Linked DNA regions of Homo sapiens: all the other regions are reported to be linked to region 2. Evidence: microRNA targets listed by miRTarBase, many of them from high-throughput screens and not tested one by one. Region 2 holds a microRNA gene; each other region holds the end of a gene's coding sequence.
The links. Region 2 holds the annotated microRNA hsa-miR-1285-3p (UCUGGGCAACAAAGUGAGACCU, at 2,250-2,271, opposite strand). A microRNA usually pairs through its seed, bases 2 to 8, with sites in the 3' UTR of a target mRNA and lowers its output. Matches are read on the target gene's strand: a 7mer-m8 pairs with bases 2 to 8, a 7mer-A1 pairs with bases 2 to 7 and ends in A, and an 8mer does both.

Region 1: miRTarBase lists RPL23 as a target of hsa-miR-1285-3p. The part of its 3' UTR that is shown has no 7-base or 8-base seed match.
Region 3: miRTarBase lists RNF135 as a target of hsa-miR-1285-3p. Seed matches in the 3' UTR shown: 7mer-m8 at 995-1,001.
Region 4: miRTarBase lists TATDN3 as a target of hsa-miR-1285-3p. Seed matches in the 3' UTR shown: 7mer-m8 at 1,446-1,452 and 7mer-m8 at 1,564-1,570.
Region 5: miRTarBase lists ATG12 as a target of hsa-miR-1285-3p. Seed matches in the 3' UTR shown: 7mer-A1 at 3,006-3,012 and 7mer-m8 at 2,463-2,469.

Annotation. Positions count from the first base shown.
Region 1 is chr17:38,845,452-38,850,558 of GRCh38, reverse strand. RPL23 (ribosomal protein L23) reads left to right here. Exons shown (of 5, transcript NM_000978.4): 4 at 84-197; 5 at 345-2,699. The coding sequence ends at 427. It overlaps LOC124903994 (a long non-coding RNA gene), which reads right to left. Exons shown (of 3, transcript XR_007065743.1): 3 at 2,269-2,294. Among named protein-coding and RNA genes, the nearest start is that of SNORA21B, 3.7 kb to the left of the region's middle.
Region 2 is chr2:70,250,684-70,255,790 of GRCh38, forward strand. MIR1285-2 (microRNA 1285-2) reads right to left here and starts at 2,322; the gene lies at 2,235-2,322. It also overlaps the pseudogene RPL39P15.
Region 3 is chr17:30,998,324-31,003,430 of GRCh38, forward strand. It overlaps RNF135 (ring finger protein 135), which reads left to right. Exons shown (of 5, transcript NM_032322.4): 5 at 339-1,588. The coding sequence ends at 868. Among named protein-coding and RNA genes, the nearest start is that of RNF135, 30 kb to the left of the region's middle.
Region 4 is chr1:212,814,117-212,819,223 of GRCh38, forward strand. It overlaps TATDN3 (TatD DNase domain containing 3), which reads left to right. Exons shown (of 10, transcript NM_001042552.3): 10 at 897-2,714. The coding sequence ends at 1,040. Among named protein-coding and RNA genes, the nearest start is that of TATDN3, 25 kb to the left of the region's middle.
Region 5 is chr5:115,827,628-115,832,726 of GRCh38, forward strand. ATG12 (autophagy related 12) reads right to left here. Exons shown (of 4, transcript NM_004707.4): 3 at 4,975-5,037; 4 at 573-4,236. The coding sequence ends at 4,177. LOC124901049 (a long non-coding RNA gene) reads left to right here. Exons shown (of 2, transcript XR_007058908.1): 2 at 4,624-5,099. Among named protein-coding and RNA genes, the nearest start is that of ATG12, 11 kb to the right of the region's middle.

The sequences.
Region 1 (5,107 bases), not on the chromosome of region 2:
CATTCTGTCTAGTTGGAAACTGCTTTTGTGGTGGCACTGCGACTTGACAGGTTAATGACTGCTGTCCTTTTTTCTTCTCTCAGTACATCCAGCAGTGGTCATTCGACAACGAAAGTCATACCGTAGAAAAGATGGCGTGTTTCTTTATTTTGAAGATAATGCAGGAGTCATAGTGAACAATAAAGGCGAGATGAAAGGTAGGAAATCAGTCCAGCTTGTTCCTTAGGTCTCTGAGGTTGGGTGGATTGTCTAGAAGTACAGGCCAAGGATCTTCTGTGTTTGACGATGTCTTAATCTGTCCCCCACATGTTTTTATTTTATTTTATTTTATTTTTTTAATGCAGGTTCTGCCATTACAGGACCAGTAGCAAAGGAGTGTGCAGACTTGTGGCCCCGGATTGCATCCAATGCTGGCAGCATTGCATGATTCTCCAGTATATTTGTAAAAAATAAAAAAAAAAACTAAACCCATTAAAAAGTATTTGTTTGCAGTGCTTGTCTCCCTGTTCACTTCCAGGGTTCAAGCGATTCTCCTGCCTCAGCCTCCTAAGTAGCTGGGATTACAGGCACCTGCCGTCATGCCTGGCTAGTTTTTGTATTTTTGGTGGAGACAGGGTTTCACCATGTTTGCCAAACGACTCAAACTCCTGATCTCAAGTGATCTGCCCACCCAGGCCTCTACAGTGTTTTTGACATACCCTGACCATCACTTTTCTGAAATGGAAACTCTGGGCATTTTTTTTTTAAAGCAATCCTTGCTTTTTTGTGAGTTTGCAGACTTTCAGCATCTTCCAATTGCTGTATTTACAATTTTGGCCTCAAAAAGTATTATTTGGGTTTTGAGTCCCAAAAATAATAGTAGATACTGCTCAATGACTGGCTATACATGGTAGCTTCTCCTGGAGTGAGGAAGGCATTCAAATGGCTGGGCGCGGTAGCTGGCACCTGTAATCCCAACACTTTCGGAGGCCAAGGCAGGCAGATCATGAGGTCAGGAGTTCAAGACCAGGCTGACCAACGTGGTGAAACCTCCTCTTTTCTAAAAATACAAAAATTAGCTGGGCGTGGTGGCGCACCGCCTGTAATCTCAGCTACTGAGAGAATCGCTTGAACCTGGGAGGTGGAGTTTGCAGCGAGTCGAGATTGCACCATTGTACTCCATCCAGCCTGGGCAACGGAGCAAGATTCCGTTCCCGCCCCCGCCCCAAAAAAAGGCATTGAAGTTAAGATAGACTATATAGTTAGATCCTGGACACACACATGGATTTTGAGGAATGATGTGAGTTTGTTTATGTATGTACATTTTAGCAGTTAACAGATTTGGAGTAAATTGAATATTTATAAAACAACAGTAATTGCCATGTAGGTTTACTGTCATAGTGGAAGATGATTAAGTTGATGGTACCTACAGGTATTTTGCTATGAAAATGTTTTGACAAACAGGATGATCGTGTAATTTATGTTCCAAGCTCTAGTTTGAGAATGGAAGAATGTGGTAAATTTTTGCCAACTGAACAGGCATAAAGCGCTGATAATAAGGGACTTGGCCTTAAGGTAGGAGGTTGTTAGCATTTCTTTCTAAACGTGTAAGAGTTTATTTAGGTGACACCCAGCGTTTTGGAAAAATGGGTGTTTGTTTAGAACAATAATTTGGAGGGAAGTGGACTAAACAGGGTTTTTAGATTAAGGTTTGTGTTTATGTATCTGTATCTGCAAATACTCAGCCATAAATGTTTCTACCTGTAAGTTGGGTATAATACAAGCTCCACTTGGTATCAAAAAGGACTACCCTTAGTGTCTTCCATGACTAGTTATGGAATGTACCAGACCTAGAGAGGAGTTGTTCTAACCTGGAGCTTTTGAAAATGTTTCCGGTCCATACCCTAGACCAATTAAGTCAGACTGCAGAATAGGACTCAGACATCAGAATTGTGAAGCTCCCAGGAGATGTCAAGGTATACCCAAGACTGAGAACCAGTACCCTGTCTAGACTGAACCAGGCTTGGTTTTAGAAGTATTAAATCTCGCCTGGGTACGGTGGCTCACACCTATAATCCCAGCACTTTGGGAGGCTGAGGTGGGTGGATCATCTGAGGTCAGGAGAGTGAGACCAGCCTGTCCAACATGTTGAAACCCCATCTCTACTATACAAAATTAGCCAGGCATGGTGGTGCATGCTGTAATCCCAGCTACTTGGGAGGCTGAGGCAGGAGAATTGCTTGAACCCCGGAGATGGAGGTTGCAGTGAGCTGAGGTCGCACGATTGTGCTCCAGCCTGGGCAACCAGTGAAACTCTGGGGGGAAAGAAAAAAAATGTATTAAATCTCTAGTTTTAGAGAGTTACACCATAACATCCCTGAGTATGGTCAATTTCAAGTCAGCTTTAGTGTGACAAGCCCCTAGGCCCACCATTTATGTCTTTATATATTATGGCAATATATGATCCTTATATATTAACCACTAATCGCTGCTGTTTTTGAATGTTATCTTTTCTGAGGCAGTCTTGCTCTGTCACACAGGCTGGAGTGCAGTAACACCACTGAAGCTCACTGTAACTTTGAACTGCTGGACTTGGAATCCTCCTGCTGTGGCCTTCAAAGGGCTGCAATTACAAGTGTGAGCCACTGCATCCCACCTCACATTTTATTCTTTGGAGATTTTTTTTGACTTGGATTAAAAAACTTTATATTTACACTTCACTAAATGTTTTCCTTTGTCAGCTGGGCATGGTGGCTCACACCTGTAATCCCAGCACTTTGGGAGGCCGAGATGGGCTGATCACCTGAGGTGAGGAGTTCAAGACCAGCCTGGCCAACATGGTGAAATCTCGTCTCTACTAAAAATACAAAATTAGCTGGGCGTGGTGACGCGTGCCTGTAGTCCCAATTACTCCGCAGGCTGAGGCAGGAGAATTGCTTGAACCCAAGAGGCAGGGGTTGCAGTGGCGGAAGTTGCAGTGAGCCAGGGAGACTCCATCTCACTCCTGGGCTCCAAGAGACTCCTGGGCTCTTGTTGCCCAGGCTTGAGTGCAGTGGTGCAATCTCAGCTCACTGCAACCTCTGCCTCCTGGGTTCTAGCGATTCTCCTGCCTCAGCCTCCCGAGTACCTGTGACTACAGGTGCCCGCCACCACGCTAGGCTGATTTTTGTATCTTTTTTTTTTTTTTTTTTTTTTTTTTTTTTAGCATTTTTTTATTTTGAGACCGAGTTTCGCTCTTGTGCCCAGGCTGGAGTGCAATGGTGTGATCTCGGCTCACTGCAACCTCCGCCTCCCGGGTTCAAGTGATTCTTCTGCCTCAGCCTCCTGAGTAGCTGGGATTACAGGCATGCACCACCACGCCTGGCTAATTGTGTATTTTTAGTAGAGACCGAGTTTCTCCATGTTGGTCAGGCTGGTCTCCACCTCCCGACCTCAGGTGATCCGCCCCCCTCGGCCTCCCGAAGTACTGAGATTACACGTGTGAGCCACTGCGCCCGGCCAGATATATATATATATATATTGTTTCCTTTGTCACTGTTTATATTCTGCAAGTTCTTTCTAGGTAAAAGTTTTAATAGAATGGATTCAAGATATCAGATCTGATTTATAGTAGCTTGCAACTTGAACAGTAATACATGTACTTTCATAATAAAAATAGTAGTAAATATAAAAAAATAGTAAATTCACTACAAGACCTAGTGGAGCATGCCTATTATCCCGGCTACTCTGGAGGCTGAGATGAGCAATTCTGAAGTCTAGCTACAGGCACGCAAAAATTGGCCGGGTGTGGTGGTGTGTACCTTTAGTCTCAGCTACTCTGGAGGCTGAAGTGGGAGGATCACTTGAGGCCAGGAGGTCAAGGCTACAGTGAGCAATGATCACACTACTGCACTCCAGCCTGGGCAAGACTGTCTCTATGAAAAAAACAAAACAGGCCAGTTACAGTGGCTCACGCCTGTAATCCCAGCACTTTGGGAGGCCGAGGCAGGCAGATCATGAGGTCAGGAGATCAAGACCATCCTGGCTAACGGTGAAACCCCGTCTCTACTAAAAATACAAAAAAAATTAGCCAGGCATGGTGACGGGCACCTGTAGTCCCAGCTATTCAGGAGACTGAGGCAGGAGAATGGCGTGAAACCGGGAGGCGGAGCTTTCAGTGAACCAAGATCGTGCCACTGCACTCCATCCTGGGCGACAGAGTGAGACTCCGTCTCAAAAAAAATTAAAAAAACCTCCATCTCGGCTGGGTGCGGAGGCTCACGGCTGTAATCCCAACACTTTGAGAGGCCAAGGCAGGTGGATTACCTGAGGTCAGGAGTTCCAGATCAACCTGGCCAATGTGGCGAAACACGCGTCTCTACTAAAAATACAAAAATTAGCTGGGTGTGGTGATGGGCGCCTGTAATCCCAGCTACTCAGGAGGCTGAGGCAGGAGAATCACTTGAACCCAGGAGGTGGAGGTTGCAGTGAGCCAAAATCGCACCATTGCACTCCAGCCTGGGCGACAATAGCCAGACTCTGTCTCAAAAAACAAAACAACGGCCGTGGTGGCTCACGCCTGTAATCCCAGCACTTTGGGAGGTCGAGGCGGGTAGATCACCTGAGGTCAGGAGTTCAAGACCAGCCTGATCAACATGGTGAAACCCTGTCTGTACTAACAGTACAAAATCAGCTGGCTGTGGTGGTACATGCCTGTAATCCCAGCTACTTGGGAGGCTGAGGCAAGAGAATCGCTTGAACCCAGGAGGCAGAGGTTGCAGTGAGCCAAGATCGTGCCATTGCACTCCAGCCTGGGCAAGAAGAGTGAAACTCCATCTCAAAGAAAAAACAAAAACAAAAAACAACAACAAAAAAAAAACAAGGCCGGGCATGGTGGCTCACGCCTGTAATCCCAGCACTTTGGGAGGCTGAGATGGGCGGATCACGAGGTCAGGAGTTTAAGACCAGCCCGGCCAGAATGGTGAAACCCCGTCTCTACTAAAAATATAAAAATTAGGCCAGGCGCGGTGGCTCATGCCTGTAATCCCAGCACTTTGGGACGCCAAGGCGGGCGGATCACGAGGTCAAGAGATCGAGACCATCCTAGCTAACACAATGAAACCCTGTCTGTACTAAACAAAATACAAAA
Region 2 (5,107 bases):
AGGAGTTCAAGACCAGCGTGGCCAACATGGAGAAACCCCGTCTCTACTTTAAAATACAAAAATTAGCCAGATGTGGCGGCACATGTCTGTAATCCCGGCTACTCGGGAGGCTGAGGTAGGAGGAGAATCACTTGAACCCGGGAGTCGGAGGTTGCAGTGAGCCCCTGGGCCACAGAGCAAGACTCCTCAAAAACAAAACAAAACACCAAAAAAACAAAAACGTGATGTCCTCTTTAAAGTAGTTTCTTCAGACTGTATACATTCTGGATTTTTCATTTTTGGAATTGTCTTTAGAGTCTCTGACACATTCTTCAGATTATTTTCAAAGATATCAAGTACTAGTCTTTTGATGGTGAATAAAACAAATGTTAATGGGGATGGTGTTTTAAAAACACCTTTTTGGGACATCCATATAAAGTGTTTTTCAGTTTAATGGTTTTTAGTTTATTCACAGAGGTGTGTGTGCAACAATCACCACAATCAATTTTATAACATTTTCTTCACCTCAAAAAGGAAACCCGTAGCAATTAGCAGACACTCCCTGTCCCTCATCCCATTCCATGTCCCAGCCACTAGTCTTTCTGCCCCTATAGATTTGCCTATTCTAGACATTTCATATAAATGGAAGCATGTAATATATGGTTTCTTGTAACTGACTTATTTCACTTAACATTATGCTTTTCAGGGTCATCTATGTTGTAACGTGTATCGGTACTTCATTCCTTTTTATTCCCAAATAAAACTCCATTATATGGATATTGCACAAGTACTTTTTTTAAAGTAGTTTTTAAGTTACAAAAGTACAACGTGCTTAGTGTTACAAATGAAATGAAATGGATACATAAGGAAAATATTAAAAATGTATCTTCTTCCTCCTTTTGAGGTAAGTAATATTAATAGATTCATCTGTAATATTCCACATTTTACTCTATACAGATGCACATGTATACACTTGGGATTTTTAGGGTTTTTTTTTTTGTTTTTTGTTTTTTTTTTACAGAGTGTCACCCAGAGTGACAGTGTCTTGGCTCACTGTGAACTCTGTCTCCTGGGCTCAAGCGTTTCTTGTGCCTCAGCCTCCAGAGTAGTTGGGATTACAGGTGTGAGCCACCACACCTGGCTAGTTTTTTTTTTTGAGACAGAGTTTCGCTCTTGTTGCCCAGGCTGGAGTGCAATGGCATGATCTCGGCTCACTGCCACCTCCACCTCCCGGGTTCAAGCGATTCTCCTGCCTCAGCCTCCCGAGTAGGTGGGATTACAGGCATGTGCCACCATGCCCGGCTAATTTTATATTTTTAGTAGAGATGGGGTTTCTCCGTGTTGGTCAGGCTGGTCTTGAATTCCTGACCTCAGATGATCTGCCTGCCTCGGCCTCCCAAAGTGCTGGGATTACAGGCGTGAGCCACCATGCCCGGCCTAATTTTTTTTTATTTTTAGTAGAGACAGGATTTCACCATGATGGCCAGGCTGGTCTCAAACTCCTGACTTCAAATGATCCACCCGCCTGATCTCAGCTCACTGCAACCTCTGCCTCCCAGGTTCAAGCGATTTTCCTGCCTCAGCCCGCCTAGTAGCTGAGATTACAGGCGTGGGCCAGCATGCCCCGCTAATTTTTGCATTTTTTAGTAGAGATGGGGTGTCACCATGTTGGACTGTCTGGTCTCAAACTCCTAACCTCAAGTGATCCGCCCACCTTGGCCTCCCAAAATGCTGGGATTACAGGTGTGAGCCACTGCGCCGGGCTTTTTTTTTTTTTTTTTTTTTTGAGACAGGGTCTCGCTCTGTTGCCCAGGCTGGAGTGCAGTGGCAATGATGTCAGCTCACTGCAGCCTCTGCCTCCAGGCTCAGGTGTTCCTGCTACCTTAGCCTCCTGAGTAGCTGGGACTACAGGCACGTGCCACCATGCCTGGCTAATTTTTTTTTTTTTTTGAGATAGAGTTTCACTCTTGTTGCCCAGGCTGGAGTGCAATGGCTCGATCTCAGCTCACTGCAACCTCCACCTCCCGGGTTCAAGCAATTCTCCTGCCTCAGCCTCCTGAGTTGCTGGGATTACAAGCGCCTGCCACCACACCCGGCCAATTTTTGTATTTTTAGTAGAGATGGGGTTTCACCATATTGGCCAGGCTGGTCTCGAATTCCTGACCTCAGGTCATCCGCCTGCCTCGGCCTCCCAAAGTGCTGGGATTACAGGCATGAGCCACCATGCCCGGCCCACGCCCAGCTAATTTTTGTATTCTTTGTAGAGACGGAGGTCTCACTTTGTTGCCCAGATTGGTCTCAAATTGCTGGGCTCAAGTGATGCACCAGCCTCGGCCTCCCAAAATGCTGGAATTACAGGTGTGAGCCACTGCGCCCAGTCCTGGCCTAATAGTTTTTTAATAGTTGCAAAATCGTCCATAAAATGAAAGTTCCCCAATGTATTGAATGGTAAATTGAATAAATTACCATAACTGGCATTGATGGATATTCAGGTTACTACTTTTCAAAAACCTATTGTATTACAAATAATGTTGCAGTTGTATCCTGGTACATGTACCTTTTTTTTTTTTTTTTTTTTTTTTGGAGGTTGGGGGGCAGAGTCTCACTCTGTGCCCAGACTGGAATGCAGTACCACAATCACTGCTCACCTCAGCCTCTACCTCCCAGGCTCAGGTGATCCTCCTGCCTCAGCCTCCTGAGTAGCTGGGACTACAGGTGCACACCACCATGCCAGGCTAATTTTTTTGTATTTTTTCGTAGAAACGGGGTTTCGCCATTTTGCTCAGGCTGGTCTCGAACCCTGGGCTCAAATCGTCCGCCTGCCCTAGCCTCCCAAAGTGCTGGGATTACAGGTGTGAGCCACTGAGCCCAGCCTCTTTCTCCAAGTTTAACTTTATTTTGTATCCAACCTATTTTCTTCTCATCTATATTGTTCTTCATGTTCATGTACTAGTTATTTTTGTTTGTTTGTTTGGGTGAAGTATTGTAATTACAGAAATGAGACTTTTTTTTTTTAAATGAAAGGCCTCACATATTTATTACTGAACCCAGCCAACCAATGCGTTCATAACAGATTCGGAGAGGAAAACACGTCGAACTCTCCAGATAGGGGTGACATTTTCAGCTTGATATGGTAACGTGATCGTGACCTTCAGACAGCATAAATATGTGTGCCATCTCATGTACAATTCCTTATAGACCCAGCTTGGTTCTTCTCCAATGTCTCCTTTTGGAGTTGTACCTGATTTTATTTCCAGTTTTCATCCGAATCCACTGGGGAATGGGACGATTTTGCTTTTGTTTCTTGGGCAGGAATCACTTAATCCTGAAAGTCTTGTGAGAAGACATGGTGAGGGTGGAGTCAAGAACACACCACGATGGCAGAGAAAGGAAAAGAGGCATGAGATCATTTTATACCCATCATGCAACCACAAGCTTTTCTCAACTGATAATACTAGGACATTAGTTATAGACCCATTTTTTTTTTTTTTGAGACGGAGTCTCACTCTGTCGCCCAGGTTGGAGTGCAGTGGCGTAATCTTGGCTCACTGCAGCCTCTGCCTCCTGGGTTCAAGCAATTGTCCTGTCTCAGCGTTCCTGAGTAGCTGGGATTACAGGTGTGCGCTACCACGCCTGGCTGATTTTTATATTTTTAGTAGTAGAGACAGGGTTTCACCATGTTGACCAGCCTGGTCTCAAATTCCTGACCTCAGGTGATCTGCCTGCTTCAGCCTCCCAAAGTGCTGGGATTACAGGTGTGAGCCACTGCGCCAAGCTCCAACATTCTTTTTTTGTAATTTTTTTTTTTTTTGAGATCAGCCTGTCAGGTTGGAGTGCAGTGGTGCAATCTCAGCTCACTGCAACCTTGGCCTCCCAAGTTCAAGTGATTCTCCTGCCTCAACCTCCCAAGTAGGTGGGATTACAGGCATGCATCACCACGCCCAGCTAATTTTTGTATTCTTAGTAGAGGCAGAGTTTTGCCACGTTGGCCAGGCTGGTCTTGAACTCCTGACCTCAGATATTCTGCCTGCCTTGGTCTCCCAGAGTGCTGGGATTACAGGCGTGAGCCACCGTGCCTGGCTTCCTTTTAATGCATGCATAATGTTCTATTGTATGGTATGTTGGGGAGAAAAAAAGAGTTTTCCTCTACCCTTCCGAGGTTTTGGTTGTGATAGACCCCTGTAACAAAAGACAGATTAACAAGAAGAAAACAAACAGGACCAGGCATGGTGGCTCATGCCTGTAATCCCAACACTTTGGGAGCCCAGGAGTTCCAGACCAGCCTGGGCAATATGGCAAAAAACCATCTCTACAAAAAATGTAAAAATTAGCTGGGCATGGTAGTGGATGCCTGTGGTCCCAGGTACTCTACTCTGGTGGCTGAGGTGGGTGGATCGCTTGAGCCCAGGAGCGAGAGGTTGCAGTGAGCCGTGATAGTGCCATTGCACTTCAGCCTGGGTGACAGAGCGAAGCCATCTCAAAATAAATAAAAGAAAGAAAGAAAAAAAGAAAAACAGAAATTTAAAAACATGTACGTCACGTATTCAAAAGAGAGACCAGGGAAATGAGCAAATCTCCAAGAGGTAGCTTTGAATTCAGGATTATACAGCATCTTCAAAAAAGAACAGTATATGTTTAGAGAAGTGTTAAGAGAACCGGGCACAGTGACTCACGCCTGTAATTCCAGCACTTTGGGAGGCCGAGGTGGGCGGATCACCTGAGGTCGGGAGTTCGAGACCAGCCTAACCAACACGGAGAAACCCCATCTCTACTAAAAATACAAAATTAGCTGGGTGTGGTGGCGCTTCCCTATAATCCCAGCTACTCAGGAGGCTGAGGCAGGAGAATTGCTTGAACCCGAGAGGCGGACGTTGCCGTGAGACTGCGCCATTGCACTCCAGCCTGGGCAACAAGAGCGAAACTTCGTCTCAAAAAAAAAAAAAAAAAGAAAGAAAGAAAAAAAAAGAGAAGTGTTAAGAGAAGGAAAATGATTTTGAGTCTCTAGGGGTGGCAAATTATGGGAAGGCAAATACGCGATAGAAAAAGGCTCATTAATGAAGTTTGTCATGTAGATTCCTGGCTGATAAAGGTTTGTCAAAAGACAAAATTACAACTAATTTAGTTTAAA
Region 3 (5,107 bases), not on the chromosome of region 2:
AGCTCAGGAGTTCGACACCAGCCTAGGAAGCATGGCAAAATCCTGCTTCTTTTCTAAATAAATTTTAAAAATAAATAAATATAATAAGTGTACATATTTATGGGATACATAGTGATGTTTCAATACATATGGTGCATAGTGATCCGATCAAGGTAGTTAGCATATCTATCATCTGAAACATTTATCATTTCTTCCTGTTGGGTGATGTAGCAATTTTAATGCTAGTGTGAGTGAAACATCACACCAAAAGATACAAAGTTGCTATTTGAAGACTTCTTAGCATGGACCATCAAAAGATGACCGGCCATGTTCTTATTGTTCTTTTTTTTTTTCCAAAGGGGCCATCCATCCAACCTTTAACTTGAAGAGCCTTTCCTGCAGCCTGGAGGTGTCCAAGGATTCCCGTACAGTGACTGTGTCTCACCGCCCACAACCCTATCGCTGGAGCTGTGAGAGGTTTTCTACCAGCCAGGTCTTATGTTCCCAGGCCCTGTCTTCTGGAAAGCATTACTGGGAAGTGGACACTAGGAATTGCAGCCACTGGGCAGTTGGGGTGGCTTCCTGGGAGATGAGCCGCGACCAGGTCCTGGGAAGGACTATGGACTCTTGTTGTGTGGAATGGAAGGGGACTAGCCAGCTCTCTGCATGGCACATGGTCAAGGAAACTGTCCTTGGCTCAGACAGACCTGGGGTGGTGGGCATCTGGCTGAACCTTGAGGAGGGAAAGCTTGCCTTCTATTCAGTGGACAATCAGGAGAAGCTTCTGTATGAGTGTACCATCTCTGCCTCCTCTCCTTTGTACCCTGCCTTCTGGCTGTATGGCTTACATCCTGGAAATTACCTGATAATAAAGCAAGTAAAGGTGTAAGGTTTCCTAAGGGATTACAACACAGTGGTTTCCTGGTCTCTCTCCCTGTCATCAATCAGGGTAGTAACTTGACTTAAGAATACCACTTTTTAGAAAAATTACGATAGAGATGGGATCTCACTAGGTTGCCCAGGCTGGTGTCGAATTCCTGGTCTCAAGCAGTCCTCCCACCTCAGCCTCCCAAGGTGCTGGGATTACAGGTGTGAGCCACCACACCTGGCCAAGAATACCACTTTTGAAGTTAATCCTTTTGTGTGATACAGGATGAACTTGGGATGTTTGAACCCTGGACATTCCAAATAAAGAATAGGCCCCTGCCTGGCTCCTGGGAGATAACCTCTAAGCCATTAGAATATCTTGCCTGATAAGAGTGTTTTTGTTTACCTGTGGGCCTTGGGCCATGCAGTATCAGCTTGACCTTGCAAGGTCAAGCTGAGGAGACTAAGTTAGCCATGTGGGCAGTGAAGCATGCCAATGTGATCAATCCCTAGTAAAAGCCCTGGACACCTAGGCATGGGTGAGCTACTCTGGTTGGTAATACTCTGTGCACACATCATTGTAGCCACACATCATTGCTGGGAGAATTAAGCATTATCCTGAAGACTCTGCCAGGAGAGGATAATTGGAAGTTCTCTTGGACCTTACCTTATGTGCCTTTCTTCATTGCTGATTTTAATCTGTATCCTTTCACTGTAATAAACTGTAACTATGAGTGCAACACTTTGCTGAGTTCTGTGAGTCCTTCTAGTGAATCACTGAACCTGAGGGCAGTCTCAGAGGATCTCTAAACATAATTTGCTACTTATCAGTTGCTATGTAAGAATATTGCCACAAATTTAATGGTTTAAAATAACACATAGATATTATTTCACAGTTTCTGTGAGTCAGGAGTCAGAGCATAGCTTAGCTGAGTCTCCTACATCAGAGTTTTACAAGCTGCAATCAACATGTCAGCTGGGGACACAGGGTCATCTGAGGCTCCAATGGGGAAGGATCTGCCTCCAAATTACATGGTCATTGGCAGCCTTCAGTTCTTGAGTTGCCGGACTGAGGGCCTCAGTTTCTTTCTGGTTGTTGGCTGGAGACCGCCCTCAGTTCCTTACCCCATAGGCCTTTGCAACACAGCTGCTTGTTTCCTCAAAGACAATAAGGGAGAGGGTCTCCTAGCCAGATGACGCAAAATCTTTTTTTTTTTTTTGAGACGGAGTCTCACTCTTGATGCCCAGGCTGGAGTGCAGTGGTGTGATCTGGGCTCACTGCATCCGCCGCCTTCCAGTTTCAAGCAATTCTCCTGCCTCAGCCTCCCGAGTAGCTGGGATTACAGATGTCTGCCACTACGCCCGGCTAATTTTTTTTTTGTATTTTTAGTAGAGATGGGGTTTCACCATGTTGGCCAAGCTGGTCTCGAACTCCTGACTTCGTGATTCTCCCGCCTCAGCCTCCCAAAGTGCTGGGATTACAGGCATGAGCCACTGCACCCGGCTGACACAAAATCTTACATAGCATAACCACATAAACACGTAATCACGTACATCCCATTGCCTTTGCCTTCTATTGATTAGAAGCAAGTCACGTTACCACCCACACTGAAGGGGAGGGGATTACAGAAGGACATGAATGCCAGGAAGTGGGGCTAATGGGGGCCACTCTACAGTATGTCTGACACAGGTGTTATTTCATACTTGATTTCCCCTATTTTTAACAACCATTTTATTATATAAGAAAACAGATACAGAAAACTACACAAAACAAGTGGTGCTTAATGAGTTATTATAAGGTAAATACCCTTGTAACTATCATTCAGGTCAAGAAATAGCACCTGCTGCCCACCCCAGAAGCGCCTTCCTGTGCCCCATTCTAATCACAAAACCCTCCCTGTGCCTGAAAGGAGTCTTGACATTCACGCCAAACACTTCCTTGCATTTCTTTAGAGTTTTATCACTCAAATATGCATCCATAGCCACAGTAGTTTCATCTTGCCCATTAAAAAAAATGGTATGTCCTTTAACAGCTTTGTTGGGAATATTATTTATTTATTTATTTATTTATTTTATTTTGGAGCCAGGTTCTCACATTGTCACCAAAGCTGAAGTGAAGTGGCATGAATCTTGGCTCACTGCAACCTCTGCCTCCCGGGTTCAAGTGATCCTCAGCCTCCTGAGTAGCTGGGATTACAGGTGTGAGCCACCACACCCAGCTAATTTTTGCATTTTTAGTAGAGATGGGGTTTTGCCATGTTGCCCAGGCTGGTCTCAAACTCCTGAGCTCAGGCAGTCTGCCTACCTCAGGCTCCCAAAGTGCTGGGATTACAGGCGTGAGCCACTGTGCCTGACTGACATATAATTTACATTCTATGAAATTCACTTAAGGTGTACAAATATATGTTTTTTACTATATTTACAGAGTTGTAAAACCATCACCATAATCTAATTTTAGGATATTGTCATCACCCCCAGAAAGAACCCTCATGCCCATTATTTAATGTCTGTTAGTCTCCTAATATACATGTCTCTCTCTCTCTCTTTTTTTTTTTTTTTGTCTTACAGTTCATCCATAGAAGGACTCTGGTCTTGACTAGCACCTATTCTGAAGATGGGGACGTTCAGCTCCTGAACTAGGTTGAAGAGAAAACCCTGTCATGCAAACCAGCCAGGCAGCGTTTGACAGTATATTTAAACTCTTCTTGCCTTTCTTTCCTCTCTAAAATGGACATCATTATTATTTGCCCTTCCTTACCTTCCTCACAGGTTTGCTGAAACCATTAAATAAAGTAGGAGGTGAGGAAATCGGAAGAATACAAGGATGATGATTATCACAGCAGCAATGATGGAATTACATCTTAATATCACCCACCTTGGCCTCTAACATCCTGAGACTCACACCTAATTTCTATACATGATTAATCGCTCCTTCAAAACAGGGGTAAGCAGAATTCTTCCACGTGGTCTACTAATATGCTTTCTGAGCCTCACCACTGCCCTGCGTGATGGGTATTATTACCTTCCTGTTGATGCATAAGGAAGCAGAGGCCGGGACAGGTGTGGTGGTTTGTCCGGGGTTGATCAGCCAGTCATGGCAGAGCTGGAACCAGGCCCAGTTTTCTCACTTTTGTTTGTTGTTGTTTTTTTTTTTTTTTTAAGACAGAGTCTCGCTCTGTTACTCAGGCTGGAGTGCAGTGGTGTGATCTTGGCTCACTGCAACTTCTGCCTCCAGAGTTCAAGTGATTCTCGTGCCTCAGCCTCCCAAGTAGCTGGGATTGTAGGTGTGCACCCCCATGCTCGGCTAATTTTTGTATTTTTAGTAGAGACAGGGTTTCACCATGTTGTCCAGGCTGGTCTTGAACTCCTGACCTCAAGTGATCCACCCACCTCGGCCTCCCAAAGTGCTGGGATTACAGGTGTGAGCCACCATGCCTGGCTGGTTTTTTCACTCTGAAGCCTCTCCCCTCGTTACTCTCCGATAAGGTCCTATGCTAAGGCCAGGACCTGGCCTTCCACTTTGATGGGACACAGCTAGCCCTAAAGTCATGAGGTACCCTTTCTTTTTGATTTTGGTGGTTGTCCTTAAGTGGCCTTGAGTTGTCTAAGCAGTGACAAGGCTTCCTTGTTTGTGCCAAGTGACCACTAAGAAGCTATGGGTGGCCGGGTGTGGTGGCTCACGCCTGTAATCTCAGCACTTATGGAGTCTGAGGTGGACAGATCACCTGAGGTCAGGAGTTCGAGATCAGCCTAGTTAACATGGTGAAACCTCGTCTCTACTAAAAATATAAAAATTAGCTGGGCGTAGTAGCACACACCTGTAATCCCAGCTATTTGGAGGCTGAGGCAGGAGAACCACTTGAGCCTGGGAGGCGGAGGTTGCAGTGAGCCATGATCTTGCCACTGTACTCCAGCCTGGGTGATACATCAAGACTCTGTCTCAAAAATAAATAAATAAGGCTAGGCGTGGTGGCTCATGTCTGTAATCCCGGCACTTTGGGAGGCCGAGGCGGGCGGATCACAAGGTAAGGAGTTCGAGACCATCCAGGCCAATATGGTGAAACCCTGTCTCTACTAAAAATAATAAAATTAGCTGGGCATGGTGGCGGGCACCTGTAGTCCCAGCTACTTGGGAGGCTGGGGCAGGAGAATCGCTTGAACCTGGGAAGTGGAGGTTGCAGTGAGCCGAGATCACGCAACTGCACTCCATCCTGGGTGACAGAGCGAGATTCTGTCTCAAAAATAAATAAATAAATAAATA
Region 4 (5,107 bases), not on the chromosome of region 2:
GCTGAACCTCTGTATATATTAATAAACATACTTTTCTTCATCATGTTTAATAACTGCATAATATTCCAGTATGTGAGTTTACCATATTTAACTTGCTATTGGTCATCTAGATTGTATTATAAACAACATGATTAACATAAATCTCTATGCCCATTTTTAATTTTTTTGGGCTACATTACCAAAGTGCATTTTAAAAATTTTAACAATAATGTTATTCTTCTGAACATTATCATCCTGAGTAGATACTTATTGATAGTAACAATAATAATTTATTTCATAAAATCTAAATGCTACTGATTGTAGAGGCACCATTGTTTACCATTGTTTTATGACCATTAAGAAAGAAAAAACACTGCCAGTTATACTATGAAATACCACTGAATCTAAATGAAATATACTGTATCAATTTCAGAGATGTTAAAATAGGAGAGGAAATGCATCTTAGAATCAGTGAAATGCCAGTACATAATCTATTTCATCTTTCCAATACATGTTGGCAATTCTTGAATCAAACTGTCATGTAGCCTGTGAGGTAGGCGGCCAAGCAGCAGAGCAGTGACCTTTTACAAGCATTCACCTAAGCAACAAACCAAAGGACAATTAATCCATTAGTCAGGCAGGTTACCAGGTGTTCACTGTTTGCAGACTGCTTCATGTGCTAGGAGCTAGGGACTTCAATTGTAAATACCCCAGGGTTCTTTTCAGGAGCAGCACAGATTTACAATCAACATTGCAGCCACACCTCCCTCCCAGCCCTCATCCCCACCTAAAAAGAAAAAAATTAAAAAGGAGCCCATCAGTTGTTTTTACCAACTCATTTTCTTCTATCTATAGTCTCCAAGGATCTGCTTCCCTTCAGTGTCATGTTTGACATGGTGTCTGCTGTCTTGTTTCAGGTACGGAATGAGCCCTGGAACATTTCTATTTCAGCAGAATATATTGCCCAGGTGAAAGGGATCTCAGTGGAAGAAGTTATAGAAGTGACGACACAGAATGCATTAAAACTGTTTCCTAAGCTCCGACACTTGCTCCAGAAATAGCTTCAAAACCATCCATTACAAAATCGAATCAACTGCAGGGGGCAGCATTTGAAAAATAGAAATGTTCTGATGAAGAATCTGAACTGAAGAAGCTGTTTTATAGGGTTATAGAAGATTGTAATTGTAGAGAAATATTTCTCTTAGAAATAAAACTGGGCTTGGATCCTGAAACCCTGGGTTCTGATTCTAGCCTTGTGCTGCTTTTCAATTAGCCGAGTTCTGGCAGGATATTGGGAAAATACTGCTACTTCTTACATTGCCCTTTTATATAGAACCACCACCTGAACTGAAACCATTGCTACTGGGAAGGGTGGCTCCCACAGGAAGAGTATAAGCACTACTGTGATGAGGATGGAGTAAGCTAAAGTATACTTTTTTTTTTTTTTGATGGAGTTTCGCTGTTGTTGCCCAGGCTGGAGTGCAATGGCACGATCTTGGCTCACTGCAACCTCCACTTCCCAGGTTCTAGCGAGTCTCCTCCCTCAGCCTCCCAAGTAGCTGGGATTACAGGCATGTGCCACCATGCCCAGCTAATTTTGTATTTTTAGTAGAGACAGGGTTTCTCCATGTTGGTCAGGCTGGTCTCGAACTCCCGACCTCAGGTGATCCGCCCGCCTCGGCCTCCCAAAGTGCTGGGATTACAGGCATGAGCCACTGCGCCAGCCTAAAGTGTGTTCTTACCACCTATTTTTCTTCCCATAGGAGTTAGCCAGTGAAGGGAGAATGTCTGGTTTTCTATGCTGTCAGAAATCTCTTTTCTAGGTTTGTAAAATTGAACTTTTAGTACTTCGAATTATTTCTCTTTAAGATAAAAATGCATACGATTTTTACACTGATCTTAGATTTTTGACTTATGAGGCCAGTGGTTTAAACAATCATTATTGAATACCAAGCCCAAAAGTTTAGTTAATACACCAATTGTAAGTTCTGGTCTGAATTTTGTCAACATATTTAGAATGTAAATGGCATTATTAAAAATGTATCTGATTTCTCTGTGAACAGTAATATTTCATATTTTTAAGTTTAAAAATGTTAGTGTAAGCCAGGCACAGTGGCATTCACCTGTAGTGCCAACCACTCAGGAGGCTGAGATGGGAGACCTTTTAAGCCTGAGTTTGAGTCAGGCCTGGGCAACATAGATGTGAGCACCTATCTCTAAAAATGTAAATAAATAAAAATCTCAAAAAAATTAAAAATCTCAAGTGTAAAAACAGTTCTGTAGATAGATGGTAGTGATGGTAGCACATCAATGTGAAGGTATTTAATGCCACTGAACTGTACACTTATAACGAATTAGGATAAATTTTATGTTATGTGTATTTACTACAATTTTTTAAAAATCGTATATGTAGTTTAACAGGTGTGGTCAATATCAAAACTTAGGTATTTAATCTTGTTAAATTATATAAGCAGAAAATGCTGGAAAAAGTACCTGTCATAGAAAAAAATAAACTTCCTAAATCAAAGTGATTTTATGAAATGATCTTCAATAAATATTTTGAAATGAATTCATTTATGGAAGAATCAAAACTAGGTCAGATTGTCCAAACCAGACTAAGAAACTGAATAGGGTATTTTATGAGGTATTTAATGACTCATCAGCACCATTTTAAATGAAATTCCTACATTTAACAGGAGATTATATTAAAACTGGACTTTTAAGCTCTCTTCCAACTCTGTATTTCTTTTCCCTATTTCCTACCTTCTGTACACATACCCTTTGTCAGACTCTTACCATTAAATCGTTTAAGGTTCAAGTTAAATTACTTCATCTTGCCTCATCACCCAGCCAGACATGATCTTTGCCCTCTAAATTGTTTAGCCATTTTCTTCATGTATTCATCCATTTGTTTGTTTCAGTTATTAAGCCCCTCCTCCTATAGGCTGCCCACTAGTCTAGGTTCCTAGGTTACAAAGATGAATAAGATATGATCTTTGCCCTCAGTTCACAATTTAATCAAGGAGATAGCCAAGTGGACAAATAATTTCATAGCAATGTGAGAAGTGCTATTGTTAGAGGAACCCCTGCTTACCAGGCCTCTGGTTTAATAAAACATGACTAGAGGCTGGGCACAATAGCTGACGCCTGTAATCCCAGCACTTTGGGAGGCTGAGACAGGCGGATTACTTGAGGTCAGGAGTTGAAGACCAGCCTGGACAACATGGCAAATCCACATCTCTACTAAAATACAAAAAAATCATTCAGGCGTGGTGGAACACACCTGTGATCCTAGCTGCTCAGGAGGCTGAGGCACAAGAATCACTTGAACTCAGGAGGCTGAAGTGGCAGTGAGCCGAGATCGCACCACTACACTCCAGCCTGGGCGACAGAGCAAGACTCTCTCCCCACCCCCCTACAAAAAAGAAAACATGACTAGAGTGACCCCATCTTAAAGTGAGTAGCTAGGCTCTCACAAGGCAGTTATAATATTAATACTTAAGGTCTGAAAATAGCCACAAGTATTATAATTACAAAATATTCACACCTGTAATCCTAGCCCTTTGTGAGGCTGAGGCATGTGGATCGCTTGAGGCCAGGAGCTTGAGACCAGCCTGGCTCACATGGCAAAACCCTGTCTCTACTAAAATATTAATAGTTTAAAAAGCTGGGTGTGGTGGCGCATGCCTGTAATCCCAGCTACTCAGGAGGCTGAGGCATGAAAATCGCTTGAACCTGGGAGGTGGTAGTTGCAGTGAGCCAAGATGGTGCCACTGCATTCCAGCCTGAGCAACAGTGAGACTCTGTCTCAAAAAAAAAAAAAAAAAAAAAAATTATGGTCATGCAGAACATCTCCCACTAAGCCTGCAGAATGTCCAGATGTCCTGAGTGCAGCCCACTTCACTCAAAGATAACATTAATGAGTAGGCTTAGTTTGAAGGATTAATGGTCATTATAGCACCAATAGCCTTGACCTTTAGTGAGCATATATGCACATTCCAAGTTTAATCATAGCTCCTTACAGTTTCTTCTAAGTAGAGACACTACCCAAGGACAGTGTGTTCCTCCTGCTTTCTGAGGACTTACTACTCTCTAACAGAGTAGTTCTAATAAACTTTCTTCCTTCACTGTGCTCTGTGACTCCTCTCCAGTTCTTCCCTGTGCTAGACCCAAGGACTGGCTCTTGGAGTCTCTTTTCCAGCAACACTATAGCAATGTAGAACAAAGTACTATAAACCAGTTCGTTGACACTTTCACATATTCCTTTTGACTATAGCTACCTGTGTATGTGTTTTCCATCTTTAGAAATTGCAAGCCTTTTGAGAACAAACCAATTTTAGTTTGTTTTTGCATCTTCTACATAGTCTGAAACAAGGCCTGCAATATGATATGCTCTCAATTTTTTTTTTTTTTTTTTTGAGACAGAGTCTCACGCTGTCACCCAGGCTGGAGGGCAGTGGTGCAATCTCGGCTCACTGCAACCTCCGCTTCCCGAGTTCAAGCGATTCTCCTGCCTCAGCCTCCCAAGTGGCTGCTATTACAGGTGCCCGCCACCACAACCAGCTAATTTTTTTGTATTTTTAGTAGAGACGGGGTTTCACCATGTTGTCCAGGCTGGTCTCGAACTCCTGACCTCGTGATCCGCCCTCCTCGGCCTCCCAAAGTGCTGGGATTACAGGTGTGAGCCACCATGCTCAGCCTCAAATATTTTTAAATTAGTGAATGGAGGCAGTAAGTCTTAAACTGACTGCAATAGAGAAAAATATTTATCTTTCAATCTGCAATGGCTATTGGATATCACATACCTTTCCACATTTTTTTTTTTAAATGAGTCCCACTCTGTAGCCCAGGCTGGAGTGCAGTGGCACGATCTCGGCTCACTGCAACCTCTACCTCCTGGGTTCAAGTGATTCTCTTGCCCCAGCCTCCTGAGTAGCTGGGATGACAGGCACCCGCCACCACGCCCGGCTTATTTTTTGTATTTTTAGTGGAGATAGGGTTTCGCCATGTTGACCAGGCAGGTCTTGAACTCCTGATCTCAGGTGATCCACCTGCCTCAGCCTCCCAAAGTGCTGGGATTACAAGTGTGAGCCACCGAGCCCAGCCTCCTTTCCACAGTTTTTTGAGA
Region 5 (5,099 bases), not on the chromosome of region 2:
AATTGCATTGAATCTGTAGATTGCTTTGGGTAGTAAAGCTGATGGATTGAAACTGGGTTGGAAGAGAGTCAAGATTCTAAGCAACTATAGGGATGGATTTATCATTCTTAAGACAAGACTTGGGAAAAGTGGGGCAGGAAAGGGGGAAAGGTATGTTTTGTAGATGTAGATAAAAGAACTGGGAACAAATACTTGGAGGAAGCAAGGAGGCAGATTTTGCCATGTTGTAAGAAAGGCAGTTATGAAACAAATAGAGCCATCTCAAAATGGACAGGACATCCTTTTTGTCTATCACTAGAAGTAATCAACCTAGATTCATGTGTATCAGCTATGACAGAAGGAACTATGGGAATTGATTTATAAGGATTCCTCTAAAGATTTTACTCACGTTTTATCTTTCATTAATATTAAATACGAAAACATGGGTATAGTAGCTAGTATCAGGTATCAAATTACTTTCCATTATTTCTAAAAATTCTATTTTAAAAACTTCCGAGATTTAAATTCAAATCTGAAAATCTGTCCTACCCCCTTGAGTCAACATGAAAGTGACTCCAAGAACAGGGACTTTATTAGTCTCTTATGAGCTTTATTAGTGTTATTCCAATATTTAGGACATAGTAGGCACTCAATATGTGAATGACAGGTTATACGAACAAACTGAAGTTTATACTTACGTTTCAAGGTTTTTGATATTGCCAAATGGCCCCCTAAAAGTGATATACCAACTCATATTCTATTCACCAAAATATGACAGGATTTCCCCACAACTCTGCTAATAGCAAGATGTACATTATTTTTATTGTCAGTCAGCATTGTTTTTATTTGTATTTTTTGTAACCAATGGGGTTCAAGGTGTTTCATGTTTTGTTGGCCATTTGTATCTTTTTGTGAATCGAAATTTGGTATGTTTTGCCTATTTTTCAGTTGGTCTTTTCTTACCAATTGAAACAAATTCTTCATATACTTAAGACATTAAAAACACTGTCATATGTTGCAAATATTTTCCATTACCTTCTGCTGTACAAAAACTTAAACTATACAAAATTTCCTTTGTTTTTAGCTGTCATACTTTGCTAATCACAATTTCATTCACTCGATGTGTTACATTACTAATTATTTACATATAAGGAAATGTACTAAGTATTATGTGTGTGTGGGTACCAGATAAAAACCAGAATAACTGGACACATGGCTCTGAGGCAGTATGCAATAAGTGATTTAATAGTGGTAGTTTGCTCTAAGTGTTTTTATGAGAGAAAGGGTATCTTCTCCTTGAATGATTCAGATAGCCTTTAAAAAGTTAAAATCTGAATCAGGCCTTGAAGAAGAGTTAGGATTTGAAAGGGTGAAGGTGTAAGTAAACTGCACGAGCAGAAGTAGATAACAGAAAACACAAGGCATCTTCAAAGAATGGTGAATAATCCAGTTTGGGTTAAATAATGTAGGCAGAGTATTTATATAAATACGATTTGAACTGTATTCAAATAGTAGTATTTGCTGAACTGTTTTCTGAATAGTTTTCATTACGTGGCCTGTAGCTGGCTTCCTTAGTGCCAAAAGTTTACTCAGCATATTATAATCCTTGGAAAATGAAGCAGAAACTGCATGAAAAGAGATTTTTATTTTCACACTCCTTCAACACCTAAGGCTTTCTCACTTTGTGTTACAACTAAATTGGTTGACTAATGTCATGTAATCTGAGAAATACACTGTACTTCGTTCTAGTAGATATTTAAGGTCCCTTTAGGACTGAAACTTACAGAAATCAGATTCCAGGAATTATCCAATCTCATTTTGATTTCGGATAAACATTAATTTGCCTTATTCCTTAAATATGGTGAATTCATTATGAAGTCTTTGGCATACTTTTAAAGATGGAAGTACAATATTGCAATATTATACATATACTTTGTGTGCCATGGGTCATCTATGCACAGTAAGATGAAGCATGATATTAATGACATCTATTTAGTCACAAAGAAAATTTAAAATATCACCTGAATGTTCAGTTTTTCCCCCAAGTTTAATCAGACTTGAGAGTTTAAATTAAAAATAAATTGTGTTGTAGGTTCTAGTCACCCAATAACTTATCGGATCCAGGCTTAATTATTGTTTAATGTTGCAAATTTAGCGCAGAATAATTCTTTGAGTAAAGATCAAGAAATAATTAAATATGATTTGAAAAAGTACAAAGTCCAGGCCCGGCACGGTGGCTCACACCTATAATCCCAGCACTTTGGGAGGCCAAGGCGGGTGGATCACCTGAGGTCAGTCAGGAGTTTGAGACCAGCCTGGCCAAAATGGTAAAACCCTGTCTCCACTAAAAATAACAAAAAATTAGGCGGGTGTGGTGGCAGGTGCCTGTAATCCCAGCTACTCAGGAGGCTGAGGCAGGAGAATCACTTGAACCCGGGAGGTAGAGGTTGCAATGAGCCAAGATTGTGCCATTACAGTCCAGCCTGGGCAACAAGACCGAAACGCTGTCTCTTTAAAAAAAAAAAAAAAAAAAAAAAGTGCAAAGTCCTATGTATTCTTCAGAGTTGTTAGGAAAGAAAACAAATAAGGTTAGCTACATATTTAGCTAACCTTAGATTTAATAAACTATTAAGTTATTTAGGTCAAAAAGAATAACTAAATGGATGCTACAAATTTCAACCAGTATTTTCGATTTTTTGAGGTCTATCATCTGAACCCTCAGTGGCAAACAATACGAAAATTCAACATATTTTTATTTGTTAAATATATGAATATAATTAAATATATTCCTTCAGTAAACTGAACTGGACAAAACTAGAGAACAGACCTTTTCCATACTCATTTAACTTTAAAATGATATTACTTTGAATTCTACTACATACCATCTTAGATCCTGTTTTGAAATTCCATTCACATTACATTCGATTTACTAGAATGCCTTTTTTTTTCTTTTTTGAGATGGGGTCTCACTCTGTTGCTCAGCAGGAATGCAGTGGTACAATCACGACTCACTATACCCTTGAACTTCTGGGCTCAGGGGATCCTCTTGCCTCTGCAGCCTAATAATTTTTTTTTAATTTTTATTTTTTTGTAGAGTTGGGGATCTTGCCTTGCTAACCAGGCTGGTCTCAAACTTGTGGCTTCACGCAATCCCCACACCTCAGCCTTCCAAAGTGCTGGGATTACAGGTGTAAGCCACCATGCCTGATCTGGAATGCTTTCTAAAAATATGGCATTATAAACATAATACTAAAGAGAAAAAAAGGTTAAATTTCACTTCAAGAAATTATCAGTCTAATAGCATCAGTAAAAATGGCACTTTTAGTCATGGCATAAAATATACAATAAGGCTATTTTTCAATTATTGTTTTCAAGTTGGAAAATGCATTATGAAACACTCAAAAAGATGCTACTGGGTTTACTCATCAAGTGCTTTTGACACCATATAAATGACAGAGTAACACCACAGTTATGTGATTGGGACTCAAGAATCCTTAAATGTTAGGACTGAAAACAGGTATATGACTTATTTGTCCAGAATTTATATTTTTCTGTATCCCAATAAAATAATTAAGCCATGTGTATTGTGTAAAATTACAGTCTTTCAGTCTGTCCTATGTGCTTGCTCTCCTGGCTAGATATTAGCTAAAAATTAGCAAAAACAGCCATTTCCCCTATTATTCCCCAGCAAAGATGTGAAACCAAAACGCCTAACCTTTTCTGCCTGGTGGACTGCCCTCTACTGGACTATTTGAGGTATTCAGCCAGCAGGTCAATGTGACTAAAAAGGTAAACATAGAGATAAATGTAAACATTAAAAAAAAAGGAACCCTTTAGTATATTAACTTTTACCATGAAAACAATTTCAGTCATTTTGAGAACTGACAATGAAGATGTTTATACAGTCTTAGTCTCCTTTTCAACCTTGGAGGCAGATCTGCAGCAATAATAGTAACAAGTAGGAGCAATGGGTGTACTATCATGACCATCTTTTATGATGACTGGTGCATTAATACAAATCACATTTTTCTGAGTCCATTCATGCTATGGATGTTTTCTTATGCATAAACATAGAGTAGACACATACTAAATAGATCACATCTGTTAAGTCTCTTGCCACAAGCATCAAAACTTTTCAGAGCTGTCTCTTCCGTGAAAATCCATTTCATGTAGTAGCAAGTTGATTTTCTTTGTGGTTCATCCCCACGCCTGAGACTTGCAGTAATGTAAAACCAGTTTACCATCACTGCCAAAACACTACAAAAAAAAAAGGCAATAAATCAAACTCAATCTTTTATTATTCTTAGATGAAACTAAGAAGATAAATGCCACATGTATCATAAATATCCACACACGTATATTAAGTTACCTATGTTACAGGCTATCTCTTTCAAAGGATGCCTGTTTCTATCAGACACATATTAATAATCCTAAGTGTTTAATAAAATCTGTCCTTTAAGCATCTTAGGCATGAATGAGCTTATGTATTTTAATCTTGTCCTTTCTCTACATGTCCAACCACAATATATGTAATTTTAGCTGTTTTCTAGTAGTGGTGCTAGTATGTGTACTCTAATAACTATTACAATGACTCTGTAAGATGTTAAACAGTCATTCTTATGCTGTTTTCTCAATTTCTTGTAGGCAGATTTGGATAACAGATTATAAGAACAATGTAGAAGAAATCAAATGTAGATAAAGAAAAAGCCTTACTTTATGAGAATCATGAAGATGACTTTGAAATGTAATTTATTCCTTGGTTCTTCAATCATTGTATAATTTATTAATATCTTTCTATGATCAAGATGTTAGATAACAGAACAAGAAAGTCATCTTTTCTACCCCAGAAAATTAAGAATGGCATGCCATCTCTTGAAATAAAAATGTGAATTAACAATACTACACAATATACATATTATACAGATGTGCATACTCGATTAAGAAAAAAAAGCAGTAATTTCTTTCTTTTTTTTTTTTTTTTTTTTTTTTTTTTACCTCATAGAGAGTTCCAACTTCTTGGTCTGGGGAAGGAGCAAAGGACTGATTCACATAAATAAACTACAAGAAAGGAAGGAAAAACAGAGATGTTTAATGGTATCCTGATTAATCTGCATTTTTCT